Regions from separate parts of the Homo sapiens genome. Here regions 1, 2, 3, 4, 5 and 6 are each linked to region 7. The links come from fine-mapping of genetic effects on gene expression. A gene starts in region 7. Each other region holds a variant in brackets. All regions are shown on one strand. Distances are between the middles of the regions. Region 1 has its middle 8.5 kb from the start of SDC3. Region 2 overlaps ZCCHC17 (zinc finger CCHC-type containing 17). Region 3 overlaps LOC124903892 (a long non-coding RNA gene). Region 4 overlaps ZCCHC17 (zinc finger CCHC-type containing 17). Region 5 holds the start of SNRNP40 (small nuclear ribonucleoprotein U5 subunit 40). Region 6 has its middle 74 kb from the start of PUM1. Region 7 holds the start of SERINC2 (serine incorporator 2).

The links.
Region 1: its variant is fine-mapped to the expression of SERINC2 in whole blood (TOPMed, PIP above 0.99).
Region 2: its variant is fine-mapped to the expression of SERINC2 in whole blood (TOPMed, PIP above 0.99).
Region 3: its variant is fine-mapped to the expression of SERINC2 in cerebellum (GTEx, PIP above 0.99). The same link has a PIP of 0.9 or more in cerebellar hemisphere and nucleus accumbens.
Region 4: its variant is fine-mapped to the expression of SERINC2 in whole blood (TOPMed, PIP above 0.99).
Region 5: its variant is fine-mapped to the expression of SERINC2 in whole blood (INTERVAL, PIP above 0.99).
Region 6: its variant is fine-mapped to the expression of SERINC2 in whole blood (INTERVAL, PIP above 0.99).

Annotation. Positions count from the first base shown.
Region 1 is chr1:30,915,195-30,919,259 of GRCh38, reverse strand. It overlaps the pseudogene RN7SL371P. Among named protein-coding and RNA genes, the nearest start is that of SDC3, 8.5 kb to the right of the region's middle. The variant A/G (reference allele first, on the strand shown) is at 2,096.
Region 2 is chr1:31,352,055-31,356,119 of GRCh38, reverse strand. All of the region lies in intron 7 of ZCCHC17 (zinc finger CCHC-type containing 17), which reads right to left. Among named protein-coding and RNA genes, the nearest start is that of FABP3, 19 kb to the left of the region's middle. RefSeq lists silencers at 1,064-1,231, 2,924-3,218. The variant T/C (reference allele first, on the strand shown) is at 1,876.
Region 3 is chr1:31,376,728-31,380,792 of GRCh38, reverse strand. It overlaps LOC124903892 (a long non-coding RNA gene), which reads right to left. Exons shown (of 2, transcript XR_007065573.1): 2 at 3,306-3,981. Among named protein-coding and RNA genes, the nearest start is that of FABP3, 5.7 kb to the right of the region's middle. RefSeq lists a silencer at 3,697-3,991. The variant C/T (reference allele first, on the strand shown) is at 2,240.
Region 4 is chr1:31,321,740-31,325,804 of GRCh38, reverse strand. The region is part of intron 3 of ZCCHC17 (zinc finger CCHC-type containing 17); the gene reads right to left. Among named protein-coding and RNA genes, the nearest start is that of ZCCHC17, 27 kb to the right of the region's middle. The variant C/G (reference allele first, on the strand shown) is at 2,298.
Region 5 is chr1:31,295,229-31,299,293 of GRCh38, reverse strand. It overlaps SNRNP40 (small nuclear ribonucleoprotein U5 subunit 40), which reads left to right and starts at 2,506. Exons shown (of 10, transcript NM_004814.3): 1 at 2,506-2,683. The coding sequence starts at 2,543. It overlaps ZCCHC17 (zinc finger CCHC-type containing 17), which reads right to left and starts at 2,262. Exons shown (of 8, transcript NM_016505.4): 1 at 2,219-2,262. RefSeq lists an enhancer at 2,528-2,737. The variant A/G (reference allele first, on the strand shown) is at 2,394.
Region 6 is chr1:31,137,366-31,141,430 of GRCh38, reverse strand. No RefSeq gene overlaps it. Among named protein-coding and RNA genes, the nearest start is that of PUM1, 74 kb to the right of the region's middle. The variant C/G (reference allele first, on the strand shown) is at 2,083.
Region 7 is chr1:31,411,108-31,415,172 of GRCh38, reverse strand. It overlaps SERINC2 (serine incorporator 2), which reads right to left and starts at 1,960. Exons shown (of 10, transcript NM_178865.5): 1 at 1,869-1,960. The coding sequence starts at 1,907. RefSeq lists enhancers at 1-441, 1,712-2,212 and silencers at 1,936-1,995, 2,076-2,145.

The DNA.
Region 1 (4,065 bases), 500 kb after region 7:
AAGTTCTCTCTTTGAGCTATTCCTTCAGGTCCTGCATACTGAGGAAACTGCTGACTCAGCTGGTTTGAAGGACCTGACTGGTTTGAAGAGCTGACTCACCAAAAAATGCAGTTTCCATGTCCTGATGATGTCATCCCCCTTACTCAAAACCATCAATGACCCAAGTTTTCTAGCCCCTCACCCTCAACAATCCCCTTAGAAATCCCAGCCCAGAACTCCTCGGAGGGATGGATTTGAGGATCTCCTCGCTTGGTGCCCTGTGATCAGTAAACTCTTTCTGCTTCTGCAAACCCTGCTGTCTCCATGTAATGGGGTCTGTTACTGTGCAGTGGGCAGAGGAACCATAGTCCTGTAATACTTTATTTATTTTTCAGGATGGAGTCTCCTGAGGCTGGGCGTGTTGGCTCACACCTGTAATCTCAGCACTCTGGGAGGCCGAGGCCTTTGGGATCACGAGGTCAGGAGTTCGAGACCAGCCTGGCCGAGATGGTGAAACCCCATCTTTTCTAAAAATACAAAAATTAGCCTGGCGCAGTAGTGGGCGCCTGTAATCCCAGCTACTTGGGAGGCTGAGGCAGGAGAATTGCTTGAACCTAGGAGGCAGAGGTTGCAGTGAGCCGAGATCACACCACTGTACTCTAGCCTGGGTGACAGAGTGAGACTCCGTCTCAAAAAAAAAAAAAAAAAAAAAGAAGATGGAGTCTCCTCTGTTGCCCAGGCTGGAGTGCAATGGTATGATCTTGGCTCACTGTAACCTCTGCCTTCCGGGTTAAAGCGATTCTCCTCCCTCAGCTTCCTGAGTAGATGAAATTACAGGCACGCGCCACCATACCCGGCTAATTTTTTGTGTTTTTAGTAGAGACAAGGTTTCATCATTTTGACCAGGCTGGTCTTGAACTCCTGATATCAGTTGATCCACCCGCCTCGGCCTCCCAAAGTGCTGGGATTACAGGCGTCAGCCATTGTGCCCAGCCCTATAACCCTTTCACTTGTTAAATTAAAATGGAGACCAGGTCTGAAGAATCCCAGAGCAGACAAAACCAGTTAGGCCTCATACATGACCTCAACCTTGCTTGATTTGCAAACATAAGCAAAAATTGAGCTATTTCTTGTAAATGCCTCTATTAAAGAAAAACAGAACTTCAGCTCAACCAGTCAGAAGTAGTCCACAAATTTTTATATAACGGGGGACTTTCTAACGGCATAGACCAAATAAACAACTATATAATTGCAACCAATCAAATAATTTATTTTACTTCTGCGTTTATCCCTTAAATACTTGCCTCTGATGATTTGTCACTGGAACATTAAACCTCTTCTGGTTTGGTGTTTCCCAGTTCATGAATTGCTTTTCACTCAAAGAAGCACTTTAAACTTATCTGTGGGATCTAACAATCAAAACAATTAAACTCAGGAAGATAGAGAACAGAAGGTTGGTTACCAGATGCTGGGAAGGCTAGTGAGGGGGTAGAGGAGAGGAGGTGGGGACGACAGTTAATGGGTGCAACAAAAAAGAAAGGATGATAAGACCTAGTATTTGATAGTACAAAAGGGTGACTATAGTCAATAATAACCTTTTTTTTTTTTTTTGGAGACAGAGTCTCACCCAGGCTGGAGTGCAGTGGCCCGACCTCGGCTCACTACAACCTCTGCCTCTTGGGTTCAAGCAATTCTCTGCCTCAGCCTCCCGAGTAGCTGGGATTACAGGCACCTGTCACCATGCCTGGCTAATTTTTATATTTTTAGTAGAGATGGGGTTTCACCATCTTGGCCAGGCTGGTCTTGAACTCCTGACCTTGTGATCCACCCACCTCAGCCTCCCAAAGTGCTAGGATTACAGGCATGAGCCACCACACCCGGTCCTTTTTTTTTTTTTTTTTTTTTTTTTTTTGAGACAGAGTCTCACTCTGTTGCCCAGGCTGGAGTACAGTGGCACGATCTTGGCTCACTGCAACCTCCGCCTCCCAGGTTCAAGCTATTCTCCTGCCTCAGCCCCCCGTGTAGCTGGGATTACAGGCACACACCACTACCTCCGGCTACTTTTTGTATTTTCAGTAGAGAAGGAGTTTCACTGTGTTGTCCAGGCTGGTCTTGA[A/G]CTCCTGGGCTCAAGTGATCTGCCCACCTCGGCCTCCCAAAGTGCTGGGATTACAGACGTGAGGCACTGTACCTGGCCTAGTCAACAATAATTTAATCGGCCGGGTGCGGTGGCTCAAGACTGTAATCCCAGCACTTTGGGAGGCTAAGGCGGGTGGATCACCAGGTCAGGAGACTGAGACCAGCCTGGCTAACACGGTGAAACCCCATCTCTACTAAAAATACAAAAAAAAAAAAAAATTAGCCAGGTGTGGTGGTGGGCACCTGTAGTCCCAGCTACTCAGGAGGCTGAGGCAGGAGAATGGCGTGAACCCAGGAGGTGGAGCTTGCAGTGAGCAGAGATCACGCCACTGCACTCCAGCCTGGGCAACAGAGAGAGACTCCGTTTAAAAAAACAAATAAATAAATAAATAAAAATTAAAATTAACATAATAATAATTTAATCATACTTTTAAAAATAACTTAAAGTGTATAATTGGATTACACTTCCTGGTGCTCCTAGATACCAGCATGGGAACATGTCCTTGGGCAGGGCTGGACCAACAACTCCAGGGGCCGAAGCCAACCTGTTCCAGGGTCCTGGCAGCCACCTGCCCCCTCCCTGTGGAACCTCAGACTCTCTCAGTTCCCGTGGGGGAAGGGTGGGGTATCCTCGCCCTCCCACCTCAGGTCTGGGGTGAACCAGACAAAGAATGACTTAAAAGTAGTGGCCTAGGGGCTGGGCATGGTGGCTCATGCCTGTAATCCCAGCACGTTGGGAGGCCGAGGCGGGCGGATCACGAGGTCGGGAGATCGAGACCTTCCTGGCTAACACATGGTGAAACCCCGTCTCTACTAACAATACAAAAAAATTAGCCAGGCGTGGTGGCAGGCGCCTGTAGTCCCAGCTACTCAGGGGGCTGAGGTAGGAGAATGGCGTGAACCCAGGAGGCGGAGCTTGCAGTGAGCCGAGATCACGCCACTGTACTCCAGCCTGGGTGACAGAATGAGATTCTGTCTAAAAAAAAAAAAAAAAAAAAATTAGTGGCATAGGGTTGGGTGTGGTGGCCCACCATAGTTCCAGCTACTCCAGAGGCTGAGGCAGGAGGATCTCTCGATCCCAGGAGATAGAGGCTGCAGTGAGCTGTGATTGTGCCACTGCACTTCAGCCTGGACAACAGAGTGAGACCCTGTCTCTAAAAATAACAACAACAAAAACACAGTGGTCTGCTCCATGTGACTGTGGGCCTTGCCCTATGCTGGGTGCTGTCCTGTGTTGCTTTGTTTGCCTCCCTCCAGCCTTGTGAGCCGTCACTGACCCTAACTTGCATGGGAGGAAAATGGCCCTGGCCACTGGCCTGGAAGTGGCAGACCCAGAATTTGAGCCCCGAGTGCCCCAGGCCTCTCTTTGGAGTCAGTGCTGCCAGGGCAGCTGCTCTTCCCCTCCACCATGGCCAGCGGCAGGACTGTCCGCAGAGAATTCAGGGTGGCTACCCGCATCTGATCCCTTCGCAGATGACGAGACTGAGGCCCAGGGTGGGAGAAGCACCTGCTCAGAGGCACACAGGAGGCGAGGGCAGCACTAAGGTGTCCCCTGGTGCAGTTGCTTGCCTGTTGCCTGCCTCCCATCCTTGGTGGGAGCTCCCTCAGTGTCCAGATCTGTGCCCAGCCCTCGCTGGGGCTCGATACCTCTAGGTTGAAGTTTGAATGTGGGTCCAACAGTCTCGAAAATCCAAAAAACCAAACACACACACAAATGTGATGTACTGCATATCTCAATGACAGCTGTGCTCAGAGAGGGGGACCCAGTGGTCAGTATCCACAGCCCTGGGGAAAGGGGGATCTCCCCCCACAGGCCCCGGTCACTCTCCCCCACCCACCTCCTAGAGGCAGCTGAGCTGCTGCAGCCTCAGAATGAGGTGAGAAAGAAAATATATTTTTAGGGAGGCATATTTTTGGTTCCAGGAAAATGATTCTAAATGAGCAGTTTAT
Region 2 (4,065 bases), 59 kb after region 7:
GAAATGCATTAACTGAACTTACATGAGTTACTATCATATATGCCCTTCCACACGCCAGGCATTCCTACTCTCCACTGTCCAACTCAGGAGCATGGACTGCTAAAGGCATGTTCCTTCACAAATCTACTCAGTTCCATATTTGGCTCCCAGAGCTGACTAGTCCTGAAACAAGTGTCCAAATCTGCCACTCACACACCAAAAAAGCCATCTCAGACAGAAGATTTTACTGTTAAGGAAAACCAACCTCCTGCTGGAATCCAAGATTTAGAGGGTAAAAGGAAACAGGAGGGCTGGAATCTTGATTTACAGTTGTGAGCAGAAACAAATCAATAGATAACATCACATGATGGCTAACGGTAGCTGGGAACAAAACAAAAACCCACCAAAAACTGACTTGATGAGTCCTGATATGTCAAGTACCTAACACAATGCTAGATACCTATGAAGCAGATAATACATATTTGTTCAGTAAATGAATAATTGAAGAGTTAAATAAATGGTTGAAGTGTGATATACAGAAAAGAATATTGTTAGTAATCTGAAGACATGGGTTATTTTTTCAGCATTATCTCTTATATTTGTGTGACTTCCGGTGAGTTACGTCAATTTCTCTGAAGCTCCATTTTACTCATGTGTAAAATGGTGGGATAATAATTCCTGTTCTGGCTATCTCATAGAATTGTATAATGATAAAAAGAAACAAAAACAGCAATGTATTTTATAAACTGTAAGCACTAAACAAATATGAGGCATAAAAGGTAATGACGGGATTAACAATGAGGTGAAAAGACAACGATGCTAAATGCTATCTTGGTAGAAATAGTGGGCATCAAGAGGAAAGTTTTACCCTTCTACACTCCCTAGAACACTTTTTAATCAAAGAGGACTCATGAGTTAGAAGTTCATATACACAAAGATACTTTTTTTTTTTTTTTTTTTTTAATTGAGATGGAGTCTCACTCTGTCGCCCAGGCTGGAGTGCAGTGGCGCAATCTCGGCTCACTGCACCCTCCGCCTCCTGGGTTCAAGCAATTCTCCTGCCTCAGCCTCCCAAGTAGCTAGGATTACAGGCCCTCGCCACCACGCCTGGCTAATTTCTGTATTTTTAGTAGAGACGGGGTTTTGCCACGTTGGCCAGGCTGGTCTCAAACTCCTGATCTCAAGTGATCCACCCGCCTTGGCCTCCCAAAGTGCTGGGATTACAGGCATGAGCCACCGTGCCCGGCCAAAGATACTTTTAAGAAATAATAATGTATAATGATTATTACTGCCATTGTTCATCAGACCATTCCTCTACTAAGTGAAAGGCAATGGAGGGCTGGGTAGTAGGTTGACTAAGCAGGTCATAAAGAGCCTCATACCTAGCAGATAGAGCCTCAGTAATTGGTTTTGTGAACTGAAATACATATCTCAAAGCAGCTTTAGAAACAAAGGAATAACAAATTATACTCAATATATTCAGCAAAAAGAACTCAACCAAAGATCCACAGAAGTGAGATATCCATATACCCTCTTTAGGAATGTAACAAGTACCATTTACCTCTAAAAGGTTAAAAGAGAAAGAATAATGCTTGGAACATACAAATAGAATCACAGTTAAAAATCTAGATCTGGCTTGAGCCCAGGACGTCAAGGCAGCAGTGAGCCACGATCATGTGACTGTACTCCAGCCTGGGTGATACAGCAAGACTCTGCCTCAAAAGAAAAAAAAAACTAAATCTGCAAGAAAATTATTTCTGTTTACAGATGGCATGATCTTCTATGTAGAAAACCCTAAAGAGTCCACAAAAAAATCCTGTTAGAACGAGTAAGTGAATTTAGCAAAGTTGCAGAATACAAAACGAACATGCTAAAATCAGTTGTGTTTCTATACAG[T/C]AGCAAGGAGCAATCAGAAAAAAAATTAAGAAAACAATTCACACAGTAGCATCAAAAAGAAAAAAATACTTAGGAAGAAACTTAACCAAGGAGATGAAAGACATGTATACAGAAAATTACAAAATGTTGCTGAAATTAAAGAAGATACAAATAGATATCCAATTTTCATGGATTGGAAGATTTAATACAGTTGAAATGTCCATACTATCCAAAGCAATCTACAGATTAAATGCAATCTCTATCAGAATTTGCAAAAATATAAAAATCTATCTTAAAATTCATATGAAATCTTTCAAAGGACCCCAAATAGCCCAAACAATCTTGAAAAAGAACAAAGCTGGAGGATCCACAATTCCCAACTTCAAAGCTTACTAAAAAGCTACAGTAGTCAAAACAGTGTGGTACTGACATAAAGACATATAGACCAGTGATAGAATAAATCCTCACTTATTTGGTCAAATGATTTTCAACAGGGGCCAAGACCATTCAGTGGGGAAAAGGACAGTCTTTTCAACCTATGGTGTTTTAAAAACTAGAGATCTACATGCAAAGAAATTTTGGACCCTTTCTGTACACCATATACAAAAATAAACTCAAAATGGATCAAAGACCTAAACGTAAGAGCTAAAGCTACAAAACTCTTAGAAAAATATAAGGGAAAAGCTTCATGACATTGGATTTGGCAATGATTTCTTGAGTATGACATTAAAAGCATCAGCAATAAGAGAAAAAAAGGTAAGTTTAACTTAACCAAGATTAAAATTTTTTTGTGCAATGAATACTATCATGAACATACTCAACATTACTGAACTGTACACTTAAAAATAGTTAAGATGGTAAATGTTATATGTTCTTTACCACTATTTTAAAAAGTCTAAATCTGATAGGGAAAAAAGGGACACTATCAACAGAGTAAAAAAACAATCCACAGATTAGAAGAAAGTATTTGCAAACCATATATCTGATGGGATTGATATCCAGAACATATAAAAAATTCCTACATATCAACAACAACAACAAAATAAACAAGCTTATGCAAAATAGGCAAAGAACTTAAATAGCCATTTCTCCAAAGAAAATATACATATGGCCAATAAGCACATGAAAAGATATTCAATATCACTAATCATTAGGGAAATGCAAATCAAAACCACAATGAGATGTCACTTTACACGCATTAGGATGGCTACTCTCCAAAAAACACAAAACCCAGAAAATAAGTGTTGGCAAGGATGTAGTGACACTTGAACCCTTGTGCATTATTGATGGGAACGTACAATGGGAAACAGAGTGCTTCCTCAAAATATTAAAAACAGAATATATGATCCAGCAATTCTACTATTAGGTATATACCAAAAAGAAAGAAGAGTGGGGTCTCAGAGATATTTATACATCCATGTTCACAGCAGCATTATTTACAATAGCCAGAATATGGAAGCAGCCCAAGTGTTCACCAAAAATAAATGGATAAGCAAAATGTGGTATATACATAAAATGGGGCTCGATGTGGTGGCTCATGCCTGTAATCCCAGCACTTTAGGAGGCCAAGGTGGGAAGACTGCTTGAGGCCAGGAGTTCAAGATCAGCCTGAGCAACATAGCAGGACTCCATCTCTACAAAAACTAAATTAGCTGGGTGTGGTGGCACACTCCTGGATCACTTGAGCCCAGGAGGTTGAGGCTGCAGTGAGACATAATTGTGCCACTGCACTCCAGCCCGGGCAACAGCACAAGACCCTGCTTCAAAAAATAAATACATAGAACAGAATATTATTTGGGCTTAAAAAGGAAGAAAATTCTAACATATGCTATGATGCAGATGAACTTTAAGGACATTATGCTAAGTGAAATAAGCCAGTCACAAAAACAAATACCACATGGTTTCAAGACAGAAAGTAGAACAGTGGTTGCAAGTGCAGGGAGGAAGGGTGAATGGGGGGCGTTATTGTTTAATGAGTATAGAGAGTTCTCGAGATCAAAGACAGTGATGGTTGTACAACAATATGAATGTATTTAATGCCAATGAACAGTACACTTCTATAATGGTAAATTTTATGTTATGTGTATTTTACCATAAAAACAAACAAAAAACACTATACAAAAAGGCTGCAGATTTTGGCTTATCAAATGGGTCAATGAGTTCCAATCACTGAGACAGGGCCAAATGTGGAAAGAACAGCTTTGGCTAGGA
Region 3 (4,065 bases), 34 kb after region 7:
CAGGCATGACCTGGACTGTTTTTACTCCTGCACAGGGTGATCCCATTCTAAGGACAGCCTTCTTCATCTGACTTTATCTTTTCCTGACTCTGATCCTATCCCTCTAACCTCATGGTCCTCCCACCGCCAACCTTTACAAGGAGAAATCTTTCACCCTGGGCTCCAGTCCTGGTCACCCCCAGCCCACCCAGTCCTTCCTGCAAATGGGCTCCTTCCTTTTCCTATCCAGTGTCTTTGTTTACTATAGAGTCCTGGGTTGCTGCCCCATCAACCCATCCCGGATAACTCCCAAGATCTCAGCCCAAGCCAGGCTGACAGTGTTGGCTTTGTACTTGCTTCCTGGAACACATCTGGCCTCAGACTCCTGAGGCCAAGACACACTCCCTGCCAGCCACCCTGCCATGGCTTGCCAGCTCTCCTCACCCAGGGACAACAGTGGGCATCTGTCCACACCAACCAGGCTCGTCAGGTCTCCGGGAGCTGCTTGAATCCTTCCACAATCTTGGGTAAGCTGTTCCTGAATAGAATGCATTATGAGGCATGACTACTGGACCATGTGTTTGGTGCCAGAAGAGGGGATGGAGGCCAGGCCACATGGCACATGAACATGCTTGAGACCTCATGGTGATGTGAGGTGCCATTTTATAAGCCTAAGGTTTACCTTTCTAATTATACTTTACCTAATCCAATATTAGAGGCTATTTAGAGTTTTGCAGAGGCAACCTTTTTTTCATTTGAGAGAAAAGGAAACTGAAGTTTGAGGAGGGAGCCAGGGTCAGCCCCAGGTCTGGGGCCTGGTTTAATCACTTTCTGGGAATAGCCCCATCCCCCCAAAAAAGCTGCTGTTGAGATCCAGGCTACCCTCATGCTTTCCAAAGGGCAATTCTCACCTGGGAGTACTTGGGGCCCCACCACACACAGGAAGTGGCCCAGGCTACTGGCCCTCAGGGATGGAGTGAGAAAGAGGACACAAAACAGGATACTTTGGCAGGAGGAAAGTTGAGAGTAGTGGAGGAGATGGTGATGGTGTCAGAATTTCAAAACAGAGAGAACACTGCAAGAACAAGTGGCTTTCTTTTTCTCTGGAGAGACTGTCCACTCCACAAATACATGCCAGGTCCTGTGCACAGCAAGAAGCAACACAGACTGGGTCCCAGCCCTCTAAGGGCCTCCGGTGTAATGGCAAAGACAGACTCTGAAACAAACATCAAAGCAGGATAGGGAAGGCCAGGGAAGATGGTGTTACCCAGAAGCAGGATAGTTATGCTGAAAGCTGAAAAATGAGTAGGAGTTGGCCGGGTGTGGTGGTTCATGCCTGTAATCCTAGCACTTTGGGAGGCTGAGGCAGGTGGATCACTTGAGGTCAGGAGTTGGAGACCAGCCTGGTTAACATGGTGAAACCCCATCTCTACTAAAAATACAAAAATTAGCCAGGTGTGGTGGCAGATGCCTGTAATCCCAGCTACCCAGGGGACTGAGGCATGAACATCGCTTGAACCTGGGAGGCACAGGTTGCAATGAGCCGAGATTGCACCATTGCACTCCAGCCTAGGTGACAGAGCTGGACTGTCTAAAAAAATATATATATATAAAGATTTTTTAAAAAAGAAAAGACTGTAGGGGTGAGGAAGAGCACTGCTGGCAAACATAAAGAGAGAAACATGGTGTCCCCTCAAGGTACAAAAAGGTCAGAATGGCTGCAGTGTGTGTGGAAAGCTGGGAGAGGCAGGTAGGGGCTAGAGTGTGTGGGCTGTGATGCTTAGGCTGTGGCTATGGGGTCATGTCAAAGAAAGTGGGTCTTGTGCTAAGGACCACAGGCAGCCAAGGAAGGAGGCTGGAAGAGAAAAAACATAAACCAGGTACGCCTGTCCCAGCTACTGGAGAGGCTGAGGCAGGAGGATCGCTTGAGGCCAGGAGTTGGAGAAACATCCTTTGTGCTGCATTCCTCAATTTGTCCTCCCCTAGCTTCTCAGAGTCCTTGGGAGGCTGGCTAGGTGAGAATAGTGATAATGCTCTTTGCAGATTTAGAAACTGAGACCCAGTGAGATCATGACTTGCCCGAGGTCACACAGCTGTTGTATACATATGGCAAGACTGGAACCCAAGTCTCACTCCAGAGCCCCTAAAACTAGGGAGGTAGATAGATTCTCTCCTTCACTCACTCATTTGTTCATTCATTCAATATACTGTACCTGTCTACAACCATACCACCCTGAATGCACCCGATCTTGTCAATATA[C/T]TATACCTTATTCTCCGCCAGAAACTCTTCTTAAAAAGGATTTCAGCAACAAATTAGACCAAGGAAATAGATGAGACCAGGCTATACAGTCTGGGCTTTCTTCTGTCAGCAACAGGGAGAGGATGGCTTCTGAGAAGGCAGATTGCCCCTCCCCACTGAGGTACCCCCTGTCCCCCAGGGCAGGGAGGGTCATTGTTCTCATTTCAGGGAGCATTCTGCCACAGGCAGCAGTTTCTTAGAAGCAAATTGGTGTTGAGTAAACCTCTACCTTCTGCCATCATTTGTTCTCTCCAGCCCACAGTATCTGGAACTCTTGGGGAACAAGGAAGCAGATTTCCTAGTGGCAGAAAGAACACTCCACCCACTGTAGCTGCAATCCCCCTGCACTGTGAGCTAAGTGAGAGCAGGGAGCTCTCCTGTTCACCCTGGATCCTCACTGAGCCTAGCACAGTGCCTGGCCATAGGAGGTGCTCAATTAAGATTGGTAGAATGAATGAATATTTAAAGAGAGAGAAAGGGAAATATGAGGAAACTTATGTCCAAGATCTGAAGGCCACTCTGTGACCTCAATGAAGAGGAGTTGGCCATATACTTGAATCCTTTCCTACTTATTCAGGGTCTCAAAGGGCCTTGGCTTACTCAAATATCCCGGGGAAAAGAACTGGAAGGAGGAAAGGAGAAAGGAGTTACTATTCCTTCAATATTAGTGCACGGTAGGCTTTCCATTTGTTATCTCTTTTAATTGTCCTAACAACCCTGAGAAGTTGATGGCCTTCCTCTATTTGGGAGAAAACAAGACTCAGAAGGGGGAAAGGGAGCTTGTTCTAGGTCTCTAGCTAGTAAATGCAGGCCTGGAGTTTAGAATCAGGGCTCTTTCCAAAGACACTGCATCTGAAGATGTCAGAGGCATTCTAACCAGAGTGACTCCATCTTGAATAGAGGCTGGATAAAATGAAGCTGAGACCTGGCTGGGATGCATTCCCACAAGGTGAAACATTCTTAGTCACAAAATGTTTACAGTTAAGAGTTAAGGGAACAGGTTAATAATTTACTAAACAGACATTTCTTTACTTCTCTAATAAACTTGCTTTTACTTTATTCTGCGGATTTGCCCCGAATTCTTTCTTGTGTGAGATGCAAGAACTCTCTCTTGGGGTCTGGATTGGGACCCCTTTCTGGTAACAAAGACCCCATGGACCAAGGGCATAAAAAGAAGGGATGTCTAAGACTTGCTGGTTCTATGGCAGGCAGAGGCAGAAAGAGCCCCACCATCATTCCCAGCAAATGGGAAAAGTTCCCAGTTGCAGATATTAGGGGTGGGATGGGGCGGGGGTAGTCAGCAACCATAGACTTAGACCCTGAAGAGGCAAAAAAGGAGGGCCATGTTCTTGGGTCAGCAGAGCTTCTACTCAGCTTCTTCAGCCTCTAGCTCTTTCCTGGTGCTAGTAGCACATTCTCTAGTGGAGGCATCCAGATGGCAGGGAGGGTCCAGGAAACAGCTGAACATGCTGAGCAGGCCTCCCTTGTCCCCGCTCCCCATGGCCCCATGGATCATCCGGTGCTGCAGCTCATCTCATTGGCTGGCTTCTGGTTACTCATCTCTCCTCTTCTCCATCTTCCCAGCCTGTGGTTGCCGTGGAAACATAGAACAGTGACCTCACCATAGGATGAGGGCTGGGGAGATGCTGTTCTTGGCAGGCGCTGGTCTTGCTGCCTGCCAGATGTTATATCCACATCTGGATCTGCCAAGGGCAAGACAGAGGAGTACAAAAAGGGACAGGGCTCACATTCTTCCCCAAATGTAGTCAGCATAACAGAGGAAGAGG
Region 4 (4,065 bases), 89 kb after region 7:
TTTGCCCGAGTTTTGCTTGGACCTGCTGGGCTCGTTCTGCCCACTTGGCCTGGCAGGCTGCATTCAGCTTTGCTTGGGGCCACTAGGCCTGTTCCATCCACTTGGTCTAATGGGCTGCGCTTGGCTCATGCTGCCGTCCCAGATCCCACACCTGCCAAGGGCGAGCCAGGCTCGGAGTGGCGAGGGATGCATGAGTGAGTGAGCATGGGGTCCAGCCACTGTGCACAGCCAGGCACACTGGCTGCTGTGGCTGGGCAGGCAGCTCCAGGTGCTGGCACAGGCACCAGCTCCATGTGAGGCTGTGGATGGACCAGGCATACCACAAGCGGCTTCCACTGTGGACTCTGGGGAACATGGTGGTGCCCAGAAGCTTGGAGAGGCCAGGAACCATAAAGCCCCAAAGAGGTGTCACAGCTCTGGCTCAGGGAGCCCTTGGATCTGTTACAGCTCTTTCAGTCCCGCCATTCAACGGGTCCCAAGTTCTTGTCTTGCATCCAGGAAGAATGAGGTAAGCAGACAACTGGAGGGTAAGCAAGGCAAAGAGTTGCTTTATTGAGTGATGGTACAGCTCTCAGGAGACCCAAAGTAGGTAGCTCCTTTCCACAGGCAGGTCAACCTGTTGAGTGCAGCTCTTAGCAGAGAGGAGACCCAGAATGGGCAGCTCTTATCTGCAGGCAGGTCATCCCAACATCTGCAGCCCTTGACGGAGAGGAGACCCAGTGTGGGTAACCCATTTCCACAGGCAAGTCCTCCCAGTGTCTGCCCAAGTCTGGCTGAGTCCAGGATTTTTACAGTCTTCAGAAGTGTGTGCTGACTGGTCCATGGGCAGGCCCAGGAAAAGCACCTTAAGTTCTCACTCTGGGCCACAGACTCCACCTGGAACTGACAGCCTGGCCCCTATGCTTTAGGCCATCCCTGGCTTGAAGGTGCGGCTTCACCGAGACCTGCCCCTTTCCACCCAGGAGCCTGTCTGCCTCTTGTCACCATCAATCATGTTGTCCATGACGCCCAGTTGTTCTGTGCCCAGGGGCACCTGCAGGCCCATGCTGAGCCACCCTCAGCACCCCTTTGGCCTCCCTCCTGTGCTCACTGGCACCCAAAGTCCAGAGGGGGCCAAGATGGTAGGAAGCTGGCATGGCAGCACCACCCCAAGGTGTGCAAACCCAGCCAGGTTGCAATAGTGCCCAGGCTCAGCTTCGACTTTGCTCCAAAATCAGAGCAGGAGCCGGGAGCTTGGAGAGTCCAGGCAGTGGGAGCAGGCACTTCTGAGACTATGGGGGAAAGGGGTCTTCCCGGACCTCCAAGAGTGCAGGGATGCCTGGGTCTGCAGCCAGGGCTGGGTGGCGGCAGCTGCACCCATGAGGGTGGGCTCCCACCCCACTAACTCATAAGGGGGCAGGGCTCCTGCCAGCTCCATAGAACATGCAGCCCTGGCCGCACAGCCCCCACTATGGCTGGCATCTTTGCAGCAGCCACTCTAGACAGGCCTCCATCGCCATCAGTGGGGTCTTGCTATGTTGCCCAGCCTGGCCCCGAACTCTTGGCCTCAAGTGATCTTACTACTTCAGCCTCCCAAGTAGCTGGAATTACAGGTGCATGCCACCACTCCTGGCTCATGTCAGTAAACTGACATTTATTGTGTTTCATTGATTCTAAGATGCACTTTCTTTTCCTCTCACTTTAATCTCTCTGAAATTGGAGTGCTTCTCATAATCAATGATGTTTTACAACTGTTATCAGTCAGGTAGCAGTGTGATGGAATTGTATGAAAACCTTCCATGGCATCTTTCTGGTAAGATGAGGCATAATTATGTCTTAGAAATACAGTCATTCTTTCAATCATCTGCATAGTCTACAAAACAGATGCACATAATTTATGTAATTCTCTACTTACACTAAATTCTTCAAAGAATTTCTGGATTAAAGGGTAATAAGCACATAAAAGATGTTAATAGGCATTGCCAAAGTCTGTGAAATTATGCTCCTGATAGAGAGTAAAAGTATCCATTTCTAACACTGGGTATTAACAGCAATCTTTTAAAATATTTATTAATCTCAAAGATTTTAGGAGTGTTTTAAATCATTTTTTAAAAATATTTGATAACTTTGCTGCCCTATGTGAAAAAAAATTTTTGAGATAATTGTACATTCATCTGCACTCAAAAGAAATAATACAGAGGTCTAGGCCGGGCTCGGTGGCTCACGCCTGGAATCCCAGCACTTTGGGAGGCCGAGGCAGGCAGATCATGAGGTCAGGAGATCGAGACCATCCTGGCTAACACGGTGAAACCCTGACT[C/G]TACTAAAAATACAAAAAATTAGCCAGGCATGGTGGCGGGTGCCTGTAGTCCCAGCTACTTGGGAGGCTGAGACAGGAGAATGGCGTGAACCCAGGAGGTGGAGCTTGCAGTAAGCCGAGATTGTGCCACTGCACTCCAGCCTGGGCAACAGAGCAAGACTCCGTCTCAAAAAAAAAAAAGAAAGAAAGAATACAGAGGTTTTATGTACACTTTATCCAGTTTTCTCCAATGGTGACATTTTGGAAAACTATAGTACACTAACACAACCAGGATGCTGGCATTGATACTGTGGTATAAGAAATACATATTCGATCTTTGTCCCTAGTTCCTGGCAGAGTTCCTAAAACGCTTGGACTATTCTGAGTGATAGAAGTGTCTTTTGTTATTCATTAAGTCCCTTAATGAGGTGACTACTGTGGGTCCCTAGATAGCTTCAGAAACAGAGAAATCAACGATGTGATTAGATAGGGTTAGAAATTTCAGCCTGGGCTGGGCATGGTGGCTCACACCTGTAATCCCAGCACTTTGGGAGGCCAAGACGGGCAGGTCACAAGGAAAGGAGTTTGAGACCATCCTAGCCAACATAGTGAAACCCCGTCTCTACCAAAAATACAAAAATTAGCCAGGCATGGTGGTGCACACCTGTAGTCCCAGCTACTCAGGAGGCTGAGGCAGGAGAAACGCTTGAACCCGGAAGGCAGAGGTTGCGGTGAGCTGATATTGCACCACTGTACTCCAGCCTGGGCAACAGAGCTAGATTCCCTCTCAAAAAAAAAAAAAAGAAATTTCAGCCCTACCCTCTGACTTCCGGGAAGGGGAGAGGGGCTGGAGACTGAGCTCTATCACTGAAGGCCAATAATTTAATCAACCATGTCTATATAACAGATCCTCCATATAAACCCCTAAGCAATGGAGTTTGGAGAGTTGGTGAACACATCCATGTGCCAAGAGGGTGACACACCCCAACTCCATGGGGACAGAGGCTTTGTACTCGGAACACTTTGGGTCTCACCCTGTGTACTTCTTCATCTGACTGCTCATTTTTATCCTTTAAAATAAACTAATAGTAACTATAGCATTTTTCTGAGTTCTGTGAGTCACTCTAGCAAATTACCAACTTTGGGGGGAAGTGCTGGGAATCCCAAAAATTGTAGCCAAGTGAGACAAAAGTGTAGGTAATCTGAGGATTCAATATTGGGGCTGGCATCTGAAGTGAGGGTAGTCATGTGGGACTGAGCCCTTAAGTTTGTGGAATCTGACACTAATTCCCAGGTAGTTAGTGTCAGAATTGAATTGAATTGTTGGGACATCCAGTTGATGTTAGAGAATCAGAGAACTGGAGAATTGGTTGGTGTAGGGAAAAACATCTCAGATAAAATCGACTGGCTCTTGTTCAGATTTCCCCAGTTTTACCTGTACTCATTTGTGTTTCTGTATGTGTATGTATTTAGTTCCACGTAATTTTACCACATGTGTAGATTCATGTATACACTGCCACAGTTAAGATACAGAACAGGTCCCTCACCACAAGGATCCTTCATATTGCTACTTCCTTCCCCTTCTTAATCCTTGTGAACCATTAAATAATTTGTTCTCCATTTAAATAACTTTGTCATTTCAAGTATGTTACATAAAAATCTTTGCAAATCATATATTTGATATGAGACTAGTATCCAGAATATATGAGAAACACCTAACTCAACAATAAAAACAAAAATAACCCTATTTTTAAAAGGGAAAAGGCAGGTGTGGTGGCTCACACCTTTA
Region 5 (4,065 bases), 120 kb after region 7:
TCCCACACTCCACAGTGACTTTCAAATCTTCTACAATATTCTCAAATTTCTCAAAACTGGATCCTCAACTGGATCCTGGATAATCCCTTATCCCCATCGGTTAGCACATCCTCTCCTCCTCTTTACAATCAGATCTATGAAAAATACTGTGTAGGTTCACTACCTACATTTTCTTGTCCAAATCCTTGCCTCATATCTGGCTTTTGGCCCAATCACACCAACAAAATAACTCTTGCTAAGGTTACTGTGACCTCCATGATGATAAAAGCCAAAATATGTTTTTCAATCTTCATGTTATTTAAATTCTAGAAATTTCTATCACAAATCATTCTTTTGCTTCTGAGACATTCTTCCAGTCCTCCTTCCTTTCTTCTGTATCTCCTGTAGGTTCACCTGTTCTTCACCATTAAATGTTGGAACTAGTCAAGGTTCTGACTTAGCTGACCTTACCCACACCTATGGCTCAATTCATGTATATACAAATTATGCCCAATTTTATATTCCCAACACAAATCTCTCTTCTGAGCACAAAGCTGTATTTCAAACTGCCTCTTGGATGTCATGAATGACCCCACACAATCAATCAATCAATCAATAAAAACTGATCTCAGCTGGGAGCAGTGGCTCAGGCCTGTAATCCCAGAATTTTGGGAGGCTGAGGCAGGTGGATCACTTGAGGCCAGGAGTTGGAGACCAGCCTGGCCAATATGGTGGAACCCCATCTCCACCAAAAATACAAAAATTGGCCGGGCACAGTGGAGGCGCCTGTAATCCCAGCTACTGGGGAGGCTAAGGCAGGAGAATTGCTTGAACCTGGGAGGTGGAGGTTGCAGTGAGCCAAGGTTGCACCACCACACTCCAGCCTGGGCGACAGAGCAAGAACCTGTCTCAAAAAAAAAAAAAAAACAAAAAAAAACTGGTCTCTAATCATCTTCTAGTGTTCCCTATCCAGCTTGAGGGATTCCGTGATAGTGAGTGAATGGTACCACCATCTATTCAACTACATAAGCCAGAAACCTAGGAGTTACCTTTGATTCCTCTCTTCACTCCCTAAAATCAACCCATCACCAAGTCCCACCCATTTTACCTCCTATATACCTCTAGAATCTGTCCAATTCTCTGCAGTTCCACCCATATCTCAGTCCTCACTGACATCTCTGACCAGGATTACTGCATATCCCAAGTGGTCCACATACATCGACTAGGGCTTCCCCAACCCCCGTCTGTTCACACCACTGAGCCTGAGGGATCAAGTCCCCTCCTCCACCACACCCCACTGGGGGAAGACGGCTCAGTGGTATCTCATCCGTTTTAAAATAAAAGCTACAAATTCCTGCAAGGTCTGACCGCTATCACGTACAGCTTCATCTTGTACCATACTCCCTTCATTCTCTTTGTACCAGCCACACTGGCTCTTTGTGCTTTTAGTCATTTTCCTCCCAAGTGCCTCAGGGCTCTGAACAAGTAGTTCTCTATGGAAGGTTCTGCCTTCACTTCTTCACCTAATTAATTACAACACTTCCTGCAGCTACCAGCGCAGGCATCTTTTCCTCTGAAAAACCTTCCTGCTTATTTCAGGCACTCATAGCATCAGGCAGCAGTAGGAGGCATTTCCATGTATTAGTGAGGTCATTGTTTAACGTTTTCCCCACCAGAGTTAAACGCCCTGAGAGTAGGGACCGTGCCCGGTTCACAACATACCCCCAACGCGCTGCTAAATGAATATCAGCAGGACGACTGAGGCAATGACCACGTTCATGGGCATGAGTCTCAAATTTCTCAACAAGACTGTGCTCTGGAGAAGGAGTCGGACATTTCCTTCATCACTGTCTCTCTCAGGGGGGCATACAGTAGGCCCTGATCAAAAACTGCAAAATCAGTGGCAGAAACAAGTCAGCCTCCTCGGCCAAATGGGGCACCGGAGGAGGCTGGGACGCAGGCCTTTCTCCCTGGGAATGCCCGGCACAGGACTGGCCACGATGGGCGCTCTTGAAGAAGGGAGCCGCAGGGGCTGGGTCTTGCCGCCAGAGACCCCAAGGCTCCGCTCCTGCCCCGAAAGGGAGCCCAGGCTACTACTTACCACAGCTGGGGACTCGGGGCCCGCCTCCCACCCCTTGCTGTCAGCACCCTCAGCTGAGAAGGGCAGGTTCAGACTGCACAACCGAGGCGTCGCCTCCAGACTCAGGCAGCCACCCACCCCGTTCTTCCTCATACGTACTAGGCGTCAGCTCCAGGTCCCCGAGTCGCTGCGCTGAACTAAACGCCGACCCCAGTCAGCCAGCGCGTTTCCACCCACAAGACCCAGCGCGCCTAGGGCGGTCGCCAGCTCCGTCCACCAATCCTGGTATCGCACTCTCATGACGTCAGAAAGATATGCCCAATAACAAGAGACT[A/G]TCCGAGGGCGGTGCAAATGGAAATATTGAAAGCCGATTGGTTCTTCCAAGCTGGAAGTTGTGGAGGAAGGACTAATTTGGAACCAATTGCGTGGCGCCTGAGAGCGGCAGCGCGGTCAGTGGCGGCGCTGAAGAGACCGGTTGCCGCCATGATAGAACAGCAGAAGCGTAAGGGCCCAGAGTTGCCGCTGGTTCCAGTCAAGCGGCAGCGGCATGAGTTGCTGTTGGGAGCGGGGTCTGGCCCAGGAGCCGGGCAGCAGCAGGCGACGCCGGGAGCCTTGCTGCAAGCGGTAAGTGAAGAAGCAGGCGGCCTTTGGCCCTCAGCTCATCTTCCTCCCCTCAGAGCGCTGTATCTGGTGATCCCTGACCCTTTCCCGCATTGCGGGGGCAGAACGAGAGTTTCTACGCAGAGTTAAAGCACATAAACACTGTAAAAGCTCCCCATAGCCTGCGAATGCTGCGTACGTGTTCCCCCGTTTGGCGCCCGTTTTCAGCCTCTCGACTGCCCTGAGATAGCATTAGAATTAGAGTTGAGGACCTTGGGCTCAAAACCCTGACCCGGGTTTAAGCATCCTGACTCTAACATGGATCTGGCATAGAACAAAAATTCCGAAGAGTGTGTAGAATGAATGAATGAGGGAGGGAAGAAAAAAGGGAAATGATTTGTGTTGGCTCGTTTTGGGACTTTGGGCAAGTTGCTTTTCCCTTTATTTCTCTGCACTAGTATTATTAACAACTAAATAGCAGCTAACATTCATTGACTCTTGTACTAAAGTGTTTCGTATATGAAATTTCCATTGATCTTGGTAGCAGCCTGTTAGGAACGTTATTAACCCATTTTGCAGATGGAAAAACAGACTTACCAAGTACGTGATAGAAGCAGATTTCGAACTGAGAAACCATGCTCCTAACTACATTTTTTGTAAGATAGAAATAGTGATCACACTTCTAATGTCCTGTTTAGGCTCAGACGAGGAAATACGAGTGTCCTCACATCTCCTCAATAAATCCTGCTGGCACCGTCCTCAAAATAGGTCTAGAATTGCTACTTCTACCATCTCCATCATTGCCTCATGGCCTAAGCCATTATTATCTCATCTGGCATTTTTGTAGTGGGACCCTAACTGGTCTTCCACTTTCTACCTTTGTATCAGCACCTGTTACCAAGCCAATAACCAAAGGAATCCTTCTAAACATCAGATCACATTACACTCTGCAGAAAACTTTCTGGTGGCTTTGTACTTCATCCAGAGTAAAAACCAAAATTCTTGTAATTATTTGCCCTCTTTCCCTTTACCTCTCTGACCAATTTCTTATTGCTCACCTGGCTTCAGTTACTCTCTCTTCCAAGCCTCTGCTTCAGGACCTTTGCATTTGCTGTCCTCTCTGTGGGATTGCTCTTCACAAATGTTTACATGGTTTACTATTCAGCTCCTGCGAATATTTGCCCAAATGTAATTTTTTCAGTGAGGATTTTCCTGACCACCCTATTTTAAATTGCAGTACCACATACTGTGGAACCCACATTGCTTCTCTCTCTCTCTTTTTTTGTTTTTTTGTTTTTAGACAATCTCTCTGTGTTGACCACTGGCTCAGTACAGCCTCCACCACCTGGGCTCAAGTGATCCTCCTGCCTCAGCCTCCTGAGTAGCTGGGACCACAGACACACACC
Region 6 (4,065 bases), 270 kb after region 7:
CACATCTCCCTGTCCTATCACTTCACCCTGCACTCTTTGACCAGTGATCTGTACACTTCGGCCCACTCCAAAACCTTTAAATACCCTAGCCCCAAACTCATCAGGGAGACCGATGTGAGGTCTCCTCTCCTCTCCTCCTTTGATAGTCTTGTGATTAAACCTCTTTCTCTGCTGCAACCTGGTGTCTTGGCATATTGACTTGCTGTATGCATTGGGCAATGGCACTATTAGAGTTACAATTCTAATAAACGAAATCATAGGCTGGGCGCGGTGGCTCACCCCTATAATCTCAGCACATTAGGAGGCTGAGGTGGGCAGATCACTTGAGGCCAGGAGTTCAAGACCAGCCTGGTCAACACGGCAAAACCCCGTCTCTACTAAAAATACGGAAATTAGTCGGTTGTGGTTGTGTAAGCCTGTAATCCCAGCTACATGGGAGGCTGAGGCAAGAGAATAGCTTGAACCTGGGAGGCAGAGGTTGTAATGAGCCAAGATCATGCCACTGCACTCCAGTCTGAATGACAGAGCAAAATCCTGTTTCTCTCTTGTTGCCCAGGCTGGAGTGCAATGGTGCGATCTCGGCTCACCTCAACCTCCGCCTCCTGGGTTCAGGTGATACCCCTGCTTCAGCCTCCCGAGTAGCTGGGATTACAGGCATGTGCCACCACACCCAACTAATTTTGTATTTTTAGTAGAGACAGGGTTTCTCCATGTTGGTCAGGTTGGTCTTGAACTCCGGACGTCAGGTGATCTACCTGCCTCGGCCTGCCAAAGTGCTGGGATTAAAGATGTGAGCCACCGCGCCCGGCCTAAAAAAAAATTCTAATTAATGAAATCATTATCCATGCAGCTATGTGTTTCACTATTTCTCCCCCACTGGAGTGTGTGTGCCAAAAGGGGAAGGCCCTCTTCAGTCTTGTTCATCCATATACATAATGACTTGCACAGTTACAAGCAAGGAAGAGAGGCTCAATAAATGGTTGCTACGTGAATGAAAGGAAGGACTGGAAAACTGTTAGCTTCTCTCTGTCTCCCTCTCTCTGAGGCAATGCTGTCTTTTGTCTCTCCTTTGCCCTTGGGCCTTCTGGATTCTTCTCTCTGTCTATATCTATCTATCTATCTATATATCTACAGATAGATATATAGTTTTGTTTTTTTTTTTTTAGATGGAGTCTCGCTCTGTCTCCCAGGCCAGAGTGCAATGGTGTGATCTTGGCTCACTGCAACCTCCGCCTCCCGGGTTCAAACAATTCTCCTGCCTCAGCCTCCTGAGTAGCTGGGACTACAGGCGCCCGCCACCCCGCCAGGCTAATTTTTTTGTGTTTTTTTTCTCGTAGAGATGGGGTTTCACCATGTTAGCCAGGGTGGTCTCGATCTGACCTCGTGATCCGCCCACTTCGGCCTCCCAAAGTGCTGGGATTACAGGCGTGAGCCACCACACCCGGCTCTGTCTATATTTTTAAATCATGTTTCTTTGTCTGTTTTGTTTTTTGTTTTGTTTTGTTTTGTTTTGTTTTGTTTTTGAGACTGAGTCTTGCTCTGTTGCCCAGGCTGGAGTGCAGTGGCGCAATCTCGGCTCACTGCAACCTCCGCCTCCTGGGTTCAAGCAATTCTCCTGCCTCAACCTCCTGAGTAGCTGGGATTACAGGCACGTGCCACCATGCCTGGCTAATTTTTTTGTATTTTTAGTAGAGACGGGGTTTCCCCATGTTGGCCAGGCTGGTCTCAAACTCCTGGCCTTGTGATCTGCCTGCCTCGGCCTCCCAAAGTGCTGGGATTACAGGCGTAAGCCACCAAGTCCAGCTGTAAATCATGTTTTTAATTAAAAAGAACTTTTGTGCTGGGCGCGGTGGCTCACGCCTGTAATCCTAGCACTTTGGGAGGCCAAAGTAGGTGGATCACCTGAGGTTGGGAGTTCGAGACCAGCCTGACCAACATGGAGAAACTCCATCTCTACTAAAAATACAAAATTAGCCAGCAAGGGGGCGCATGCCTGTAATCTCAGCTACTTGGGAGGCTGAGGCAAGAGAATCACTTGAACCTGGGAGGTGGAGGTTGTGGTGAGCTGAGATTGAGCCATTG[C/G]ACTCCCGCTTGGGCAACAAGAGCGAAACTCTGTCTCAAAAAAAGTTTGGCTGGGTGTGGTAGCTTGCGCCTGTAATCCCAACACTTTGGAAGGCCAAGGCAGGAGGATCATTGAGTCTAGGAGTTTGAGACCAGTCTGGGCAACATGGCGAATCCTTGTCTCTACAAAAAATACAAAAATTAGCTGGGCATGGTGGTGTCAGAAGCATTTGAACCAGAGCAACTCCATCTTGAATAGGGGCTGGGTAAAATAAGGCAGAGACCAGGGCTGCATTCCTGGACAGTTAAGGCATTCCCGGACAGTTAAGTCACAGGGTGAGACAGGAGATCGGCACAAGATACAGGTCATAAAGACCTTGCTGATAAAACAGATTGCAGTAAAGAAGTTGGCTAAATCCCACGAAAACCAAGATGGCGACAAGAATGACCTCTGGTCGTCCTCACTGCTACACTCCCACCAGTGCCATGACAGTTTACAAATGCCATGGCAACAGCAGGAAGTTACCCGATATGGTCTAAAAAGGGGAGGCATGAGTGATCTATACCCATTACTTAGCATATAGAAATAAAAATAAACCATAAAAATGGGCATCTATCAACCCTCAGGGCTGCCTTGTCTATGGAGTAGCCATTTTTTATTCCTTTACTTTCTTAAATAAACTTGCTTTCAGCTGGGTGCGGTGGCTCCTGCCTGTAATCCCAGCACTTTGGGAGGCCGAGGCGGGGAATCACGAGGTCAAGAGATCAAGACTGTCCTGGCTAACACGGTGAAACCCCATCTCTACTAAAAATAAAAAAAATTAGCCAGGCGTGGTGGCACACGCCTGTAGTCTCAGCTACTCCGGAGGCTGAGGCAGGAAAATCACCTGAACCCATGAGTCAGAGGTTGCAGTGAGCCGCGATCATGCCACTGGCACTCCAGCCTGGGCAACAGAGCAAGACTTCTTCTCCAAAAAATAATAATAATAATAATAATAATAATAATAATAATAATAATAATAAACTTGCTTTCACTTTATTCTATGGGCTCTCCGCGTATTCTTTCTTGCACGAGATCCAAGAACCCTCACTTGCGGTCTGGATCAGGACCCTTTTCCAGTAACAGTGGCACAAGCCTATAGTCCCAGCTACTAGAGAGGATGAGGTGGGAGGATAACTTGAACCCAGGAGATCAAGGCTACAGTGAGCTATGATGAGGCCACTGCACTCCAGCCTGGGCAACAGAGTGAGATCCTGTCTTAAATAAAAACCTTAAACATTTATTTATTTTTTAAATTTAATTTATTATTATTATTATTATTATTATTATTATTATTATTATTATTTTGAGACAGGATCTTGCTCTGTTATCCAGGTTGGAGTACAGTGGCACAATCTCAGCTCACTGCAAACTCCCCCTCCCAGGTTCAAGCGATTCTCGTGCCTCAGCCTCCCAAGTAGCTGAGATTACAGGAGTACACCAACACACCCGGCTGATTTTTATATTTTTAGTAGAGACAGGGTTACTCCATGTTGGCCAGGCTGGTTTTGAACTCCTGGCTTCAAGTGATCCACCCACCTCGGCCTTCCAAAGTGCTGGGATTAAAGGTGTCAGCTGCCATACCCGGCCTATTATTGTTTTTTTATAAAGCCAGGTTTCTCCATGTTACCCAAGCTGGTCTTGAACTCCTCCTCTCAAGTGATCAGCCTCCTGAAGTTCTGGGATTATAGGCATGAGCCACCATGCCAGACCAAAAAAACCCGTTTTTTTTTGTTTTTGTTTTTTTTGGTTTTTATTTTGAGACGGAGTTTCCCTCTTATTGCCCAGGCTGGAGTACAATGGTGTGATCTCGGCTCACTGCAACTTCCGCCTCCTGGGTTCAAGTGATTCTCCTACCTCAGTCTCCTGGGTAGCTGGGACTACAAGTGGGCACCACCATGCCTGACTAATTTTTCTATTTTTAGTAGAAACGGGGTTTCACCATGTTGGCCAGGCTGGTCTCG
Region 7 (4,065 bases):
GATCCTAACTATGCAGTTCTTCATCCTTTCCCTGTGCAACCTTAGGAAAGTCAGCTATCTTCTCCGGGCGGGTGGCAGTCTTCTCATCTGTAAACAGATGGTTTGAGCAGTCCTATCTGCTCTCAGCATTGTAGAATGCTGTAACTCAGAGACCAGCACTTGGCTTTGCATTGTCTCCAAATGGAATTCTCCACCCACCTTTCCTTGATGTTAGCAATAATTCCCACAAGGAGCACTCACGATATGCCAGGAACTGTGCCTCATCTCCCAACAGCATTGTGAGAAAGGCCCTGTTACTGTCAACTGCCAGATGGGGTGACCAAGGCACACAGGGCTGGCAGGCTGCCCCTCAACATCTCCACCCCCAGGCCAGCCCAGCAGGGCCTGTGCCTCACCAGGTGCAACCGATGGAAATCAGGTCCACTGTGGAAGCTCTGCCTCCCTCACCAGGAAGCAAACCCTTGTTGGCAGAGACCTGGCCCAAACCTTGAATTCTTTGGGCTGGGAGGGATTTCAGGCACCAGCTTGATTCCTCCTCCTGCACACGCACATGCACACGCACACACACACACGAAAAATGGAGGCCTAATGAGGCGAGAGGCTCTCTTGCCTCTCTGTGCTGTCTATGCTGATCTCATTCTCAGAAAAAGGCTGTAAAGTAAATCTCTAGACCCTCAGCTCTCCCCTACACCCCCTCCTCTCTCTCTCTCTCTCTCTCACACACACACACACACACACACACACACACACAACCCGTCAGGGACAAAGGAAAGCGAGTCCCGAGATTCAGCAGCCGCTGCAGCCCCTTCTCCCTCTCAGGGCCTCTTTGTGTGGGGCCAGAGGGGGAGGGGGCTGCCTGAATGAACCTCAGATTTAATGAGGGGAAGAGGAAAGGAGAGGGGGGCTGGGGAAAGGGAAGGGAGAACGGGCCTCCCAGCCGGGGTCTTGCTGGAGCCCCTCCCCTCTGCGGCTGCAGCTACAGAACAGAGGTTGGCCTCCCCACAGGTCCCGAACCCGCGACCGGGCACTCCCCGCGCACACCCGAACCTCCCTCGATTCCTGCTCTCCCAACCCAGAGTTCCGCCCGGTGGTCCGTGACGACCCGCACCCGCCTCACTCGAGGGCAGCTAAGAAAGTCCGGGGCTCCCTCCGCTCCCATCCCAGTCTCCGCGCTGGGGCCCAGATGATCCGGGGCGAGCTGGGGAAGTGCCTGAGAGGCAGCGCGAGCCAGACTGAGGACGGTAAAGGGACCGCAGAGAGACTGAGGGACGGACGGGCGGACGGGCAGACGGACAGAAGACAGCAGACGGACAAAGACAGTCGGACGAACGACGGACACAGACAGGAACCAGACAAATACGAACGGACAGGCGGAGCCCGAGCGACAGGAACAGGCGGACTGGCAGGCGGCCAGAGGGGTAGGGCAGGGCACTCGCCAGGAGGGACGGGGCCCGGGCGACCTACACAGAGAACCAGGGCGTCCGGGACGGGGACAGAGGCCACCCCGAGGACCGCCCCAAGTGGGGCGACGAGGGCCCACAGAGCTGCCCCGACCCCGGGCTCCAGGCTTAGTCTCTCCAGGTCCCAGGAGGGCGCCCGCCGAGGGCACTCCCCTCCTGCCCGCGGAAACCCGAGCCGGGACCGCAGCTGCCCGGCGCCTGCCGGCCAGGACTGAGCAGGGGGACGGGGGCAGCGGGATCCGGGTGCCGAGTGAAGGTCCAGGAGGGCGAGCAGGCGGGGCACCGGCCCAGAAAGACAAGTTTGCAGGAAGGAAAAAGAAGAAACTACTCGGAGCAGAACAGAAGAAAGTGAGGGCCCGCAGCAGGAACGGGCGGCGCGCGCGGGCGGGCGCCGGGGTCGGGACTCACGCAGCTGAGCAGGGAGCAGGCTCCCAGGCAGGCCCCCATGGCGGCGGCTCCCGGCTTCGGGCGCCCGGCGCCGGGCGCGGGGCGCGGACCTCGGGATCCGGGTGCCGGGCCTGGCCCCTCCCCGGCCCCGGCCCCGCCCCGGCCCCGCCCCACCTACCGAAGCCGCTCGACGCTTTCCGGCGGCGCTCGGGGCCTCCCCAGACTCACCTGGGGCAGGTGCGCCAGGAGGGACCCTAGGGAAGGGGCCGGTCGGGGATTCCCGCGGCCACGCGAGCGGCGCAACCTGACCCAATCGTGGCCCGGGCTCGCATCCTGCTCCAAAGTGAGCGTTCGGAAATCGACCTCGGTTTGAGCCCGTGTGACCCCAGGACACTGTCACCCTTGGGAACAGAAGCCAAGAGGTGGTCACCGCTGACTCCTCAGTGCTTGGCGCAGGGCCTCTGCTCAATACGTAGATGCTGAGGTTGAATGCTGAATGACTGGATAAAGAAACTTCGGCAAGTCACTGCACCTCTATGAGCCTCAGTTTCCCGGTCTGTAAAGTGAGGATACATACCTCACAGGGTGGTTACAACACATGGTAGGTGCTTGACAAATGTAAGCCCCCATCGTCACTGTTTTCTTCTTCCTTTTTAAGAGACAGGGTCTTGCTCTGTCACCCAGGCTGGAGTGCAGTGGTGCAAACATAGCTCACTGCAGCCTCGACCTCCTGGGCTCAAGTGATCCTCCTGCTTCAGGCTCCTGAGTAGCTGGGACTACAGGTGCATGCCACCATGCCCACCTACTGCTTCTTCTAAGACCCCAGCCTCTCACTCTAAACCCATCCTCCCTTCTCTCCATCTGTTCTTCAAACTCCACTGACTCCCAACAGCCTGCTGGGAGCTACACACTCCCTACAGCCACCCCTGCTTGGTGGCTTATCACTCCCTAGGGATGCCCAAACTGGTCCCTAGCTAAGGAGGTCAGAAGGTGGGGAGGGGCGGCCACATTCCTGACAGATGGCTTTCCAGGGGTAGGTGTGAGAGACCCAGAAGTAGGGCTCTGTAATTAGTCTCCCTTCACCCTTAGCCCTGTCCTCAGCCACCTCTGGACAAGATAATGTTAGGGAAAGAAGTCTCTGTGCCTCGAAGCTGGCCCCAGGGCCAAAGAGCTGGTTGACTGCATCCTTGGCTGATTCACTGGGCGCCAGGCTTAGCCATTAATTGCACCAGGACTGTTCCACAAACACACCCTATACTTTTCCTCCTCCGCACTTTTGCCCACACAATGCCCTCCTCTTTTTTTTTTTTTTTTTTTTTTTTTTTGAGACAGGGTCTCACTCTGTCACCCAGGCTGGAACACAGTGGCCCAATCATGGCTCACTGCAGCTTCAACCTCCTGGACCCAAGTGATCCTCCCACCTCAGCCTCCCAAGTAGCTGTGACCACCAGTGTGTACTACCACACCCAGCTAATTTTTTAAAAATTTTGTGTAGAGATGAGGTCTCCTTATGTTGTCCAGGCTAGTCTCGAACTCCTGGGCTTAAGCAATCCTCCTGCCTTGGCCTCCCAAAGTGCTGGTATTACAGATGTGAGGCACTGCACCTGGCAGATGCCCTCCTCTTAAAGGTCCTTCTCCTTATCCCTCTTTCTCCCCTTTGAAGCTTGCTCACATGCCATACCTCTCAGTGAAGAGAGCCACCACCCTCACCCCCAACCCACTACCTGGTTCCATTAGGAATGAACATCCTCCTGATTCCCCCAAGCCTCCAAACAATATGGGCCTCCCTTATGGCCTCACAAACAACCCGAGCACATGCCCAACTTTCCCCCGTGGTACCATTTGAGCCCCACAACAGCCCTGAGAAGTCGATTAATTCCCCACCCACTCGTTTACAGATGAGGAAACCGAGAAACAAAGAAGTAGTGACACGCGAAATGTAAATCAAGCGTCGAATAAACGTTGACTGTGATCACTGTGGTTGTTGTTACTATTGCTGAAGGCCACACAGCTCAGAAGAAACAGAGCTGAAAGGCAACCTGGCCTGGCTTTCACCCTGATGTCCTACTGCTTCCCTTGAAAAAGTAGAGGTGACAATATCTAGTCTTCCTATTTTTCTGTCCAGCAATATTTCAGTCCTTCCCTAACCCGAGGCCTTTAGGGGACTGTGAGCCACCCAAGAACGGTCTGCTCTCTGGCCACCCCCTCTCCTACCCAG